Linked DNA regions of Homo sapiens. Changing the gene in region 1 together with any one later gene gives a genetic interaction. Each region holds a gene or a part of one and is shown in the gene's direction. Other genes may lie near its edges.

Region 1 (3,500 bases):
CCAAGGCGGGCAGATCACGTGAGGTTGGGAGTTCGAGACCAGCCTGATCAACATGGAGAAACCCCGTCTCTACTGAAAAAAATACAAAATTAGCTGGACGTAGTGGTACGTGCCTGTAATTCCAGCTACTCGGGAGGCTGAGGCAGGAGAATCGCTTGAACCTGGGAGGTGGAGGTTGCAGTGAGCCAAGATCGTACCATTGCACTCCAGCCTCGGCAACAAGAGCGAAACTCCGTCTCAAAAAAAAAAAAATTTTTTTTTGTCTTAGGTCTCTCTCAGTATTTAGGTTTCCCCATCTTCTTTGTGTTTGTTTGTTTGTTTGTTTTTGTTTTTTGAGATGGAGTCTCACACTGTCACCCAGGCTGGAGTGCAGTGGCGTGATCTTGGCTCACTGCAAGCTCCACCTCCTGAGTTCAAGCAATTCTCCTGCCTCAGTCTCCCAAGTAGCTGGGATTACAGGCACCCACCACCATGCCCAGCTAATTTTTTGTATTTTTAGTAGAGGCAGGGTTTCACTATGTTGGCCAGGCTGGTCTCAAACTCCTGATCTCGTGATCTGCCCACCTCGGCCTCCCAAAGCGCTGGGATTACAGGCGTGAGCCACCACACCTGGCCTGATTTCCTCATCTTCTAAAAAAAAATTTTTTGGCCCAGGCGTGGTGGCTCACGCCTGTAATCCCAGCACTTTGGGAGGCAGGTGGATCACCTGAGGTCAGGAGTTTGAGACCAGCCTAGCCAACATGGTGAAAACACATCTCTAATAAAAATACGAAAATTAGCTGGGTGTGGTGGCGGGTGCCTATAATCCCAGCTACTCAGGAGGCTGAGGCAAGAGAATTGCTTGAATCCAGGAGGTGGAGGTTGCAGTGAGCTGAGATCACACCATTGCAATGCAGCCTGGGCAACAAGAGCAAAACTCAATAAATAAATAAGAAAGATTTTTTTTTTTTGCCATTTATTTGTCAAAGAAACCAGCTCAGTTGTCCTACAGAATTTTTCACATTTAGGAGTTGGCTGATTGGGTGGAGATTGACACATCCTCTCTGCCCATATTTCTTGTAAACTGATAGATCTAGAGGCGGAATCAGCTTCAGGTGCCAAGAAGACTTGACAGTGGGTGCAAGTGCTTCTGGCCACATCACATCAGGATGCATGGAACATCTAATCTGGTCATTTTTCTTGTTAGTGATAAGATTGACCAGTGGGTTCAGGTGATGTCAGCCTGAACCTTTCATATAAAGTTTCTCATGAGCTTTGTGTCTAGTGTTTTTAGCAACCATTGGTGGTCTTGCCTGTTTATGAACATCATAAAAGGGGTATCAAAGTATGTTTATCTTCTGGTACTTGCTTTTTGTTTTTTAACTTAATATCACATTACCAAGATCTGTGCACATTGCTGTCTGTAACTTTTTCACTGCTGTGTAATATTCCATGCACCCTCTCTTTATGTGGCCCTTTGTCTCCTCTGCTACCCACACTTATCCCCAGCAGCCATCCGTGGGTAGTGGCGGGGGGCAATGGTGGTGGTGGTTTTCTTTACTCACCTCATTGTCTGAGTCCTGGGGGTTGGATATGTCTGTTCTGCCTCTCTCCCAGTCTGAAGTTGAAGCTCTAACTGAACAACTAAGTGAAGAGGAGGAGGAGGAAGAGGAGGAAGAAGAAGAAGAGGAAGAGGAGGAGGAAGAGGAAGAAGAAGAGGAAGATGAGGAGTCAGGGAATCAGTCAGATAGGGTAAGAGACGGAGGCTGATATCTCCAGAGGAGTGGGAGACTATGGGGCTGGAGGTCTGGTCCTGAAGGTGTTGGGGGGGCCCCTGGGGGTGAGGGTTCCTAACTCCTCCTCCTCCCCCTTCCCAGAGTGGTTCCAGTGGCCGGCGCAAGGCCAAGAAGAAATGGCGAAAAGACAGCCCATGGGTGAAGCCGTCTCGGAAACGGCGCAAGCGGGAGCCTCCGCGGGCCAAGGAGCCACGAGGTGAGGAGGCTCTGCTGCTTTTGGGTGCCCTCCAGCCCCCGCCCGGCCCCCCAGAGTGTGTGCACGCACACACACGCTCTCGCATGTCCACCTGCATGTACCCACGCGTCCAGGCACCTGTGAGCTCGCACTCTCACTCTCTCTGTCTCTGTGTCAGGAGTGAATGGTGTGGGCTCCTCAGGCCCCAGTGAGTACATGGAGGTCCCTCTGGGGTCCCTGGAGCTGCCCAGCGAGGGGACCCTCTCCCCCAACCACGCTGGTAATTGCCAATTGCCGGGACAGGGAGCCACTAGGGGGCGACCTCAGGGCAGGAGGGAAAGGGAAGGAGGGGAACCACGCCAGAGCCGGGGTGTCCATGGCCAGGCTTTAGGGGTTCTGGGGCATGGCGGGGTGGGGTAGGGAGGGAGTGAGAGGACCCGCCAGGGGTCCCAGTAGGTGAGGTGCAGAGCCTCCCTCAGCTCCTCTTTTCCTCCATCCAAGGGGTGTCCAATGACACATCTTCGCTGGAGACAGAGCGAGGGTTTGAGGAGTTGCCCCTGTGCAGCTGCCGCATGGAGGCACCCAAGATTGACCGCATCAGCGAGAGGGCGGGGCACAAGTGCATGGCCACTGAGAGTGTGGACGGAGAGGTGGGGCCGTGGGCTGGTGGGAGAGGTGCCAGGGCGTCCAGTCCCCGGCCCCAGCCTCACGCTCTCTTCTCACCCATCCTCACTGCGCACAGCTGTCAGGCTGCAATGCCGCCATCCTCAAGCGGGAGACCATGAGGCCATCCAGCCGTGTGGCCCTGATGGTGCTCTGTGAGACCCACCGCGCCCGCATGGTCAAACACCACTGCTGCCCGGGCTGCGGCTACTTCTGCACGGCGGTGAGTGACCAGTGGGGCAGACAGGTAGCATGCCCTGTGGCAGAGGGGGCCCCAGTAACCTGACCATGTCGTTTCCCTGCTCCCAGGGCACCTTCCTGGAGTGCCACCCTGACTTCCGTGTGGCCCACCGCTTCCACAAGGCCTGTGTGTCTCAGCTGAATGGGATGGTCTTCTGTCCCCACTGTGGGGAGGATGCTTCTGAAGCTCAAGAGGTGACCATCCCCCGGGGTGACGGGGTGACCCCACCGGCCGGCACTGCAGCTCCTGCACCCCCACCCCTGTCCCAGGATGTCCCCGGGAGAGCAGACACTTCTCAGCCCAGGTACTGGCCTCCCCCTTCTGTACTGTCTGTTCCCTCCCCCACCCCTATTGCTCCTGGACATGAGCTCCTTCTTCCACAGTGCCCGGATGCGAGGGCATGGGGAACCCCGGCGCCCGCCCTGCGATCCCCTGGCTGACACCATTGACAGCTCAGGGCCCTCCCTGACCCTGCCCAATGGGGGCTGCCTTTCAGCCGTGGGGCTGCCACTGGGGCCAGGCCGGGAGGCCCTGGAAAAGGCCCTGGTCATCCAGGAGTCAGAGAGGTGAGTGGGGAGTTGCTCAGGCACAGCAACTGGGGCTGAGGCCAGAGGAGTGGTGTCGAGGCTGATGCTGGAATCTGAGG
Region 2 (4,093 bases), on another chromosome or scaffold:
GCAGGAGGCAGGACCCAGCTCAGTTGCCCAGCTGCCTTCCTGAGCCATGGCCAGGTGGGGATCATCTGCCCTTCTCACCCCATTCTCTCTCTCCTCCTACAGGGGCACAAATCCTTTTGCCACTGTCAAGCTTCGTCCCACCATCACCAATGACCGCTCAGCACCCCTCATCCGCTGAGGCGGGGTCCGAGGTCGTACCCCACAGTGCACCTGCCCAGGGGCTGTTCAGAGCTGGCAATGGCAGCGACAGCAGCAACAGCAGCAGATCCAAGAAGCGGGTCCCTGAGACGGGGGGTGGCTGCCCTCCCCAGACCACCCCGGCAGCCTGAGCAGCTCCAAAGCACTGGCTTGGGGTCCGAGACCTTCAAAGTAAAGCAGGCGGAATGGGGGGACAGGACAATTTCTCCCCCTCCAGGGGCTCCAGGACTCTCCCTGGGGGGCCCACCTCTTGCCCCCTAACCTCTTTCCCCCTTTTCTGCCCCCGTGGGGAGGAGCCCCTTGTACCTGCTCCGTGCCCAACACATGCCCTCTCTGTACATCTTTTGTAAATGATGAGAAATAAAGGAAGTGGACGCAAAGTGATGCGGCAGCAGGACTGGTGGTGTCTTATTTGGGGGACAGGGCAGGGGGTGAGGGATAGAGACTCCCCCATTGGAGAATGGGGTCTAGGGGGTACTGAGGTCCTGGCTGTTCCCCGGGAAGCCATCTCACTCCCAGCCCCTTGTTTGTTTGTTTGGAGAACTCTTTAGGGCTGCCCCAAAGCCCTCGCGCTGCAGCCCCCATCTCCACCTGCTCTCATTTCGACCTGTGGGTTTCCTAGGAAGTAGCGGCTGCTCGGGTCAGGGGAGAGGTGGCAGTGGCCAAGGGCTGGGACCACCAGCAAGCTGCCCTCAGGCGGCCTGGACACAGCACCCTTTGTTTTGGCCCCTCCCCCCCCCACATTCCCAGGCACAGGCGTGGATTAGCTTCATTCTAGAGAAAGCTGCCAGCCCCTCCTGGAATGTGGCCTGGGGCGGGGGGTTGGGGCGGGGGCAGATGAGGCACTGAGGTGATTAGAACCGTTGGGGTCTCTTCAGGGCAGGGCTGTGCCCCCAGCACCAGACTAGGACCCCCTGGGCAAGGTCTCTGTGTCTACCACCCCAGGCTCCAGGAGGCACAGGGATTCTCTTCCTCCCTCCTGGACTGGCTTGGGACAGGGAGCCCACCGCCGAGGCCCAGCCTGGCCTGGGGCTCCCAGTCTCTTCTCCCCTCCTGGACAAAAGCCTCTTAGCAGGGGTGAGGTGTGGTGGGGGCACACACTCTAAGCTCCAGGCCTGGGGCAGGGAGCGTCAGGCGGGAGTCGGCCAGAGGCTCAGCCCAGGCTGGTGGGAAGCTGGGGTGTCTGGCAGCCCCCATCCGGGTAAGCTTCACCGGGAGCTGCGGCGGCGGCCCCTCCCTGCAGGCCTCAGGAGATGTGAGGCTGGACCCCCAAACCCACGAGGCAGGCTCAGGTGAGTGTGATGTGAGGGCTGCCTGGGATCACCCTCCTGTCTCCACCTTCAAGTGGCTGCCCCTGTGACAAGAGGACAACAGGCAGGAAAAGCCACAACCTGGTCCTAGTGGAGGAGGGGCAGAGTCCCGGATACCCTGGGGGTGGTGGCACTGCCCAGTGCCAGGAGGGACACTCCAGGCAGGAGGGCAGGAGGCTATCCCCAGCCCCCGGCTCCTGGTGCACCTGTCTCTGAGTACACCCTCCTCATCTGTTATGGGGGCGCTTGTAACTGCTGTGAGGGCCCCGGGTGGAGCCCCAGGAATGAGACAGGCTTTGGAGCCATTCTTTTCATATAGAGGGTTTGAGGTTTGGAGGGCAGAAGGCCACTCTCTCAGTGCTGCTAAGGTTCCTACCTGTCTGGCAGAAGCCAGAGACCTGACTCCTCTCCCGCAAGATTCCCAGCTGGCCTCGGGGTGATCAATCACCCATCTTACATCGGAGGAAAGGGAGGTTGGGAGAGGGGAGGCGACCGGCCCAAGTCAGGGAGGGAATCCATGGCTGAGCTGAGATGCATGGGAACTCAGCTCCCCTGGCTGATATCTGTTGAAAGTGGCTTTTGTCCCCTTAATGTTCTAATGACAATAGTCATTTGTGATCACTGAGAAACATTAGGAACATGGCGGAAGGCTAAAGAGGAAAATCACGCACAGCGGCCCTTTGCAGCCGGCATCTGCCCCTCTGCTGTTTGTTCTGTTGTCCCGAGACCCTCACGCGTACGGGGCGACTTTGGTGCTGGACGCCCACCTCCAGGCACATACCTGCTCCACTTCCCGACGCCTTCCACCTGAGGCCCTGAGGGGCCAGCAGTTGTCCTTCAGAGGGAGCCTGCAGAGGTGCAGAGTCAGGTGGGACCCGTCGTCCTCCCCTCGTCCTTCAGCGCCCTTTGCAGGAGAAGGAGACTTGGGGTGAGAGTCCTACCTCCGTTTCCCCTTTTGGTTCCCAGACCTGAGCCACCCTCACGTGGGTAGCCCTGTGCCTCAGTTTCCCCATGCTTCGTCTCCATCCCCCTCCTTCTCTAGGCTGCTGGCCCAGCCCCTCCCTCTTGTCCCCGCCCCCTCCCAACAGAGGCAGCGATGGGCGCTGGCGGCCCCCGGCGGGGCGAGGGCCCCCCAGACGGCGGCTGGGGCTGGGTGGTGCTGGGCGCCTGCTTTGTGGTCACCGGCTTCGCCTACGGCTTCCCCAAAGCCGTGAGCGTCTTCTTCCGCGCGCTCATGCGCGACTTCGACGCCGGCTACAGCGACACGGCCTGGGTGTCCTCCATCATGCTAGCCATGCTCTACGGCACGGGTCAGTGTCCCCGCCCGGCCCTCCGCCTCCCCGGGACCCCTGGGATCCGGAACCAGGAGACACCCGAGCCCCTGAGCATCCCCCTGACCCTCGGGGTGGCCCCCGAAGTCCCTTCCTGCCTGTGGGAACCCTGGCACCAGAAAGAGGGGAAGAGAGGGCGGGAGGGAGACAGCGGCCAGAGGCGGGGCCGGCCCAGGGGGCTGCCCTGCGAGCTCAGAGGGCCCCTTCTAAGACCACACCCGCCCATTGTAGAGGCAGGAAAGCTGAGAGCCACAGAAGCACTCCCCCTCCCCGCAGCCCTGACCTGTAGGTGGGGGCTTGCTGGAGTTCCCATCCTGGGAGGCGGGGCTGCGGAGGAATCCCAGTCTGTGCCAGGGCGGGACTTGGAGGCTGTGAAGGTTAAAGGGGTGCGGAAGCCCCCGCTCCGCTTGGGGTTTGGGTTCGCAGGATGGGGTGCTCTGGGCCTTGCCCTCGCAGGATGCTGTCTCTTTGGCCTGTCCCCTCCAAGCTGTGTGACCTTGGCCAGACACTGCCCTCCTCTCTGTGTCCCTGAGCCGGAGGTGACCTTATTCCTTAGAGGACTCAAGCCATCCCGGGACCCGGGTGGTGACCCTGCCCTGCCCACAGGCCCCGTGTCCAGCATCCTCGTGACCCGCTTTGGCTGTCGCCCGGTGATGCTGGCGGGTGGGCTGCTGGCTTCCGCGGGCATGATCCTAGCTTCCTTTGCCACGCGCCTCCTGGAGCTCTACCTGACCGCTGGGGTGCTCACAGGTGAGGGCCCCCTGGTCTCCTCTCCGCTGGGTTGGGGGTCGGGGGTTCTTGCTGCAAGATCTGTCCTCGGTTTCCCTATGAGGGACAGTCTTCGAAGTCCCTCGGCTGGGTTCCCGGATCTGCTGGGTTCCCGGGCCTGGCCCCTCCCTCCTGTGGGGGCCAGGGAGGGGCTCTCCGGGGACCCCGGCACAGCACCGCCTCGCCCGCAGGCCTGGGCCTGGCCCTCAACTTCCAGCCGTCGCTCATCATGCTGGGGCTGTACTTCGAGCGGCGGCGGCCTCTGGCCAACGGGCTGGCGGCGGCGGGCAGCCCCGTGTTCCTGTCCGCGCTGTCGCCGCTCGGCCAGCAGCTGCTGGAGCGCTTCGGCTGGCGCGGCGGCTTCCTGCTGCTCGGCGGGCTCCTGCTGCACTGCTGCGCCTGCGGGGCTGTCATGAGGCCGCCGCCCGGGCCGGGCCCGCGACCGCGCAGGGACAGCGCCGGCGACCGCGCCGGGGACGCTCCGGG
Region 3 (3,159 bases), on another chromosome or scaffold:
TACTCTGGTGAGTCACCACTTCAGGGCTTTACTCCGTAACAGATTTTGTTGGCATAGCTCTGGGGTGGGCAGTTTTTTGAAAATGGGCTCAACCAGAAAAGCCCAAGTTCATGCAGCTGTGGCAGAGTTACAGTTCTGTGGTTTCATGTTAGTTACCTTATAGTTACTGTGTAATTAGTGCCACTTAATGTATGTTACCAAAAATAAATATATCTACCCCAGACTAGATGTAGTATTTTTTGTATAATTGGATTTCCTAATACTGTCATCCTCAAAGAAAGTGTATTGGTTTTTTAAAAAAGAAAGTGTATTTGGAAATAAAGTCAGATGGAAAATTCATTTTTTAAATTCCCGTTTTGTCACTTTTTCTGATAAAAGATGGCCATATTACCCCTTTTCGGCCCCATGTATCTCAGTACCCCATGGAGCTGGGCTAAGTAAATAGGAATTGGTTTCACGCCTGAGGCAATTAGACACTTTGGAAGATGGCATAACCTGTCTCACCTGGACTTAAGCATCTGGCTCTAATTCACAGTGCTCTTTTCTCCTCACTGTATCCAGGTTCCCTCCCAGAGGAGCCACCAGTTCTCATGGGTGGCACTCAGTCTCTCTTCTCTCCAGCTGACTAAACTTTTTTTCTGTACCAGTTAATTTTTCCAACTACTAATAGAATAAAGGCAGTTTTCTAAACTTCCTGTATCCTGTTGTTTGTGTTGCTCTCTCCAGGGCTGGGGGTAGGAGGATGCAAGGACTTCCTGGCCTAGCTCACCCTGGAGAGGTTTGTTGAGTGCAAAGGACTAGCTTGTGCCCCACCTCCCACCCACCCAGCAGCTAATCTGGTCCCTCCCAACAACATGGAAATGATTACCCTGTACCGCATTCTGGTTCAGATTTGGGGGTAGGGTGAATGCAGCCTGAGGAGGCCAGGGAGGGAGGACTCCGGCAGCGTTTCCTTGGCCTCGGCGAGCTACTGGGCTCCACTTAAGGAGGCTGGGGCAGAGCTTCCAGGACTCTGCCCGGTTAGAAAACCCGCACGAGGGCGGTGCCGCTTTGGAGACAGGGAGGAGGGAGACCGGAAGCCTAGATCCCTCTGGCTGTCCCCTGCACTGCCGGTAACATGGCACAGGAGAGGAGGGCTGTTTGTGCACGGGCAGCTCCTGCAGCTGCTGCCGTCGCCCACCAGCCTCCTATGCCAAACCCCACATCCTAACTCAGGAACCTCTGAGAAAAAACGGAGCCCTCGAGGGCCCCAGCCCTTGGAAGGGTAACCTGGACCGCTGCCGCCTGGTTGCCTGGGCCAGACCAGACATGCCTGCTGCTCCTTCCGGCTTAGGAGGAGCACGCGTCCCGCTCGGGCGCACTCTCCAGCCTTTTCCTGGCTGAGGAGGGGCCGAGCCCTCCGGGTAGGGCGGGGGCCGGATGAGGCGGGACCCTCAGGCCCGGAAAACTGCCTGTGCCACGTGACCCGCCGCCGGCCAGTTAAAAGGAGGCGCCTGCTGGCCTCCCCTTACAGTGCTTGTTCGGGGCGCTCCGCTGGCTTCTTGGACAATTGCGCCATGTGTGCTGCTCGGCTAGCGGCGGCGGCGGCGGCGGCCCAGTCGGTGTATGCCTTCTCGGCGCGCCCGCTGGCCGGCGGGGAGCCTGTGAGCCTGGGCTCCCTGCGGGGCAAGGTACTACTTATCGAGAATGTGGCGTCCCTCTGAGGCACCACGGTCCGGGACTACACCCAGATGAACGAGCTGCAGCGGCGCCTCGGACCCCGGGGCCTGGTGGTGCTCGGCTTCCCGTGCAACCAGTTTGGGCATCAGGTGCGCCGGGCGGAGCGGGGCGGGGCGGGGGCGGACGTGCAGTAGTGGCTGGGGGCGCCGGCGGTGTGCTGGTGGGTGCCGTCGGCTCCATGCGCGGAGAGTCTGGCTACTCTCTCGTTTCCTTTCTGTTGCTCGTAGCTGCTGAAATTCCTCTCCGCCCTTGGGATTGCGCATGGAGGGCAAAATCCCGGTGACTCATAGAAAATCTCCCTTGTTTGTGGTTAGAACGTTTCTCTCCTCCTCTTGACCCCGGGTTCTAGCTGCCCTTCTCTCCTGTAGGAGAACGCCAAGAACGAAGAGATTCTGAATTCCCTCAAGTACGTCCGGCCTGGTGGTGGGTTCGAGCCCAACTTCATGCTCTTCGAGAAGTGCGAGGTGAACGGTGCGGGGGCGCACCCTCTCTTCGCCTTCCTGCGGGAGGCCCTGCCAGCTCCCAGCGACGACGCCACCGCGCTTATGACCGACCCCAAGCTCATCACCTGGTCTCCGGTGTGTCGCAACGATGTTGCCTGGAACTTTGAGAAGTTCCTGGTGGGCCCTGACGGTGTGCCCCTACGCAGGTACAGCCGCCGCTTCCAGACCATTGACATCGAGCCTGACATCGAAGCCCTGCTGTCTCAAGGGCCCAGCTGTGCCTAGGGCGCCCCTCCTACCCCGGCTGCTTGGCAGTTGCAGTGCTGCTGTCTCGGGGGGGTTTTCATCTATGAGGGTGTTTCCTCTAAACCTACGAGGGAGGAACACCTGATCTTACAGAAAATACCACCTCGAGATGGGTGCTGGTCCTGTTGATCCCAGTCTCTGCCAGACCAAGGCGAGTTTCCCCACTAATAAAGTGCCGGGTGTCAGCAGAACTGTGTGTATGTCCTGTGTCATTGTCATTTGGGAATTCTTTTTCTTTTCTTTTTTTTTTTTTTTTTTTGAGACGGAGTTTTTTGCTCTATTGCCCAGGCTGGAGTGCAGTGGCGCAATCTAGGCTCACTGCAAGCTCCGCCTCCCGGGTTCACGCCATTCTCCTGCCTCAACCTCCTGAGTAGCTGGGACTACAGGTGCCTGCCACCACGCCCGGCTAATTTTTTGTATTTTTAGTAGAGACAGGGTTTCACCGTGTTAGCCAGGATGGTATCGATCTCCTGACCTCGTGATCCACCCGCCTCGGCCTCCCAAAGTGCTGGGATTACAGGTATGAGCCACCGCACCCGGCCTGGCGATACTTTTTCTAACCTCATTGTCATAGTGGTGGGAACTTAATCCTCCTTCCCTTATCCTAGCCAAGTCTGAACTTTCTGTCCTTTTGTCTGCAGCGTGTAGGATCCACTCTTTCCTTTGTGGGAAGTCTGGCTCCTGGCCTGCA

What was found. Genes that interact genetically often act in the same process or in processes that back each other up.
Region 2: changes in EHMT2 (region 1) and SLC16A8 together harm fitness less than expected from each alone (positive genetic interaction), as found in Homo sapiens cells (one large-scale study listed by BioGRID).
Region 3: changes in EHMT2 (region 1) and GPX1 together harm fitness more than expected from each alone (negative genetic interaction), as found in Homo sapiens cells (one large-scale study listed by BioGRID).

What each region holds. Positions count from the first base shown.
Region 1 is NC_000006.12:31,887,699-31,891,198, reverse strand, and holds part of EHMT2 (histone-lysine N-methyltransferase EHMT2), read left to right. Parts: intron 1-1,596; coding exon 1,597-1,731; intron 1,732-1,856; coding exon 1,857-1,971; intron 1,972-2,128; coding exon 2,129-2,230; intron 2,231-2,451; coding exon 2,452-2,600; intron 2,601-2,692; coding exon 2,693-2,836; intron 2,837-2,922; coding exon 2,923-3,158; intron 3,159-3,237; coding exon 3,238-3,420; intron 3,421-3,500. UniProt on the Homo sapiens protein: Histone methyltransferase that specifically mono- and dimethylates 'Lys-9' of histone H3 (H3K9me1 and H3K9me2, respectively) in euchromatin.
Region 2 is NC_000022.11:38,081,385-38,085,477, reverse strand, and holds the start of SLC16A8 (monocarboxylate transporter 3), read left to right. Parts: upstream 1-1,293; 5' UTR 1,294-1,490; intron 1,491-2,116; 5' UTR 2,117-2,436; intron 2,437-2,440; exon of another isoform or gene 2,441-2,596; 5' UTR 2,597-2,604; coding exon 2,605-2,818; intron 2,819-3,445; coding exon 3,446-3,589; intron 3,590-3,798; coding exon 3,799-4,093. Other genes in the region: BAIAP2L2 (BAR/IMD domain-containing adapter protein 2-like 2), read left to right, coding at 103-178.
Region 3 is NC_000003.12:49,356,676-49,359,834, reverse strand, and holds GPX1 (glutathione peroxidase 1), read left to right. Parts: upstream 1-1,481; 5' UTR 1,482-1,556; coding exon 1,557-1,670; coding exon of another isoform or gene 1,671-1,853; exon of another isoform or gene 1,854-1,946; coding exon of another isoform or gene 1,947-2,009; exon of another isoform or gene 2,010-2,068; coding exon of another isoform or gene 2,069-2,087; coding exon 2,088-2,447; 3' UTR 2,448-2,659; downstream 2,660-3,159.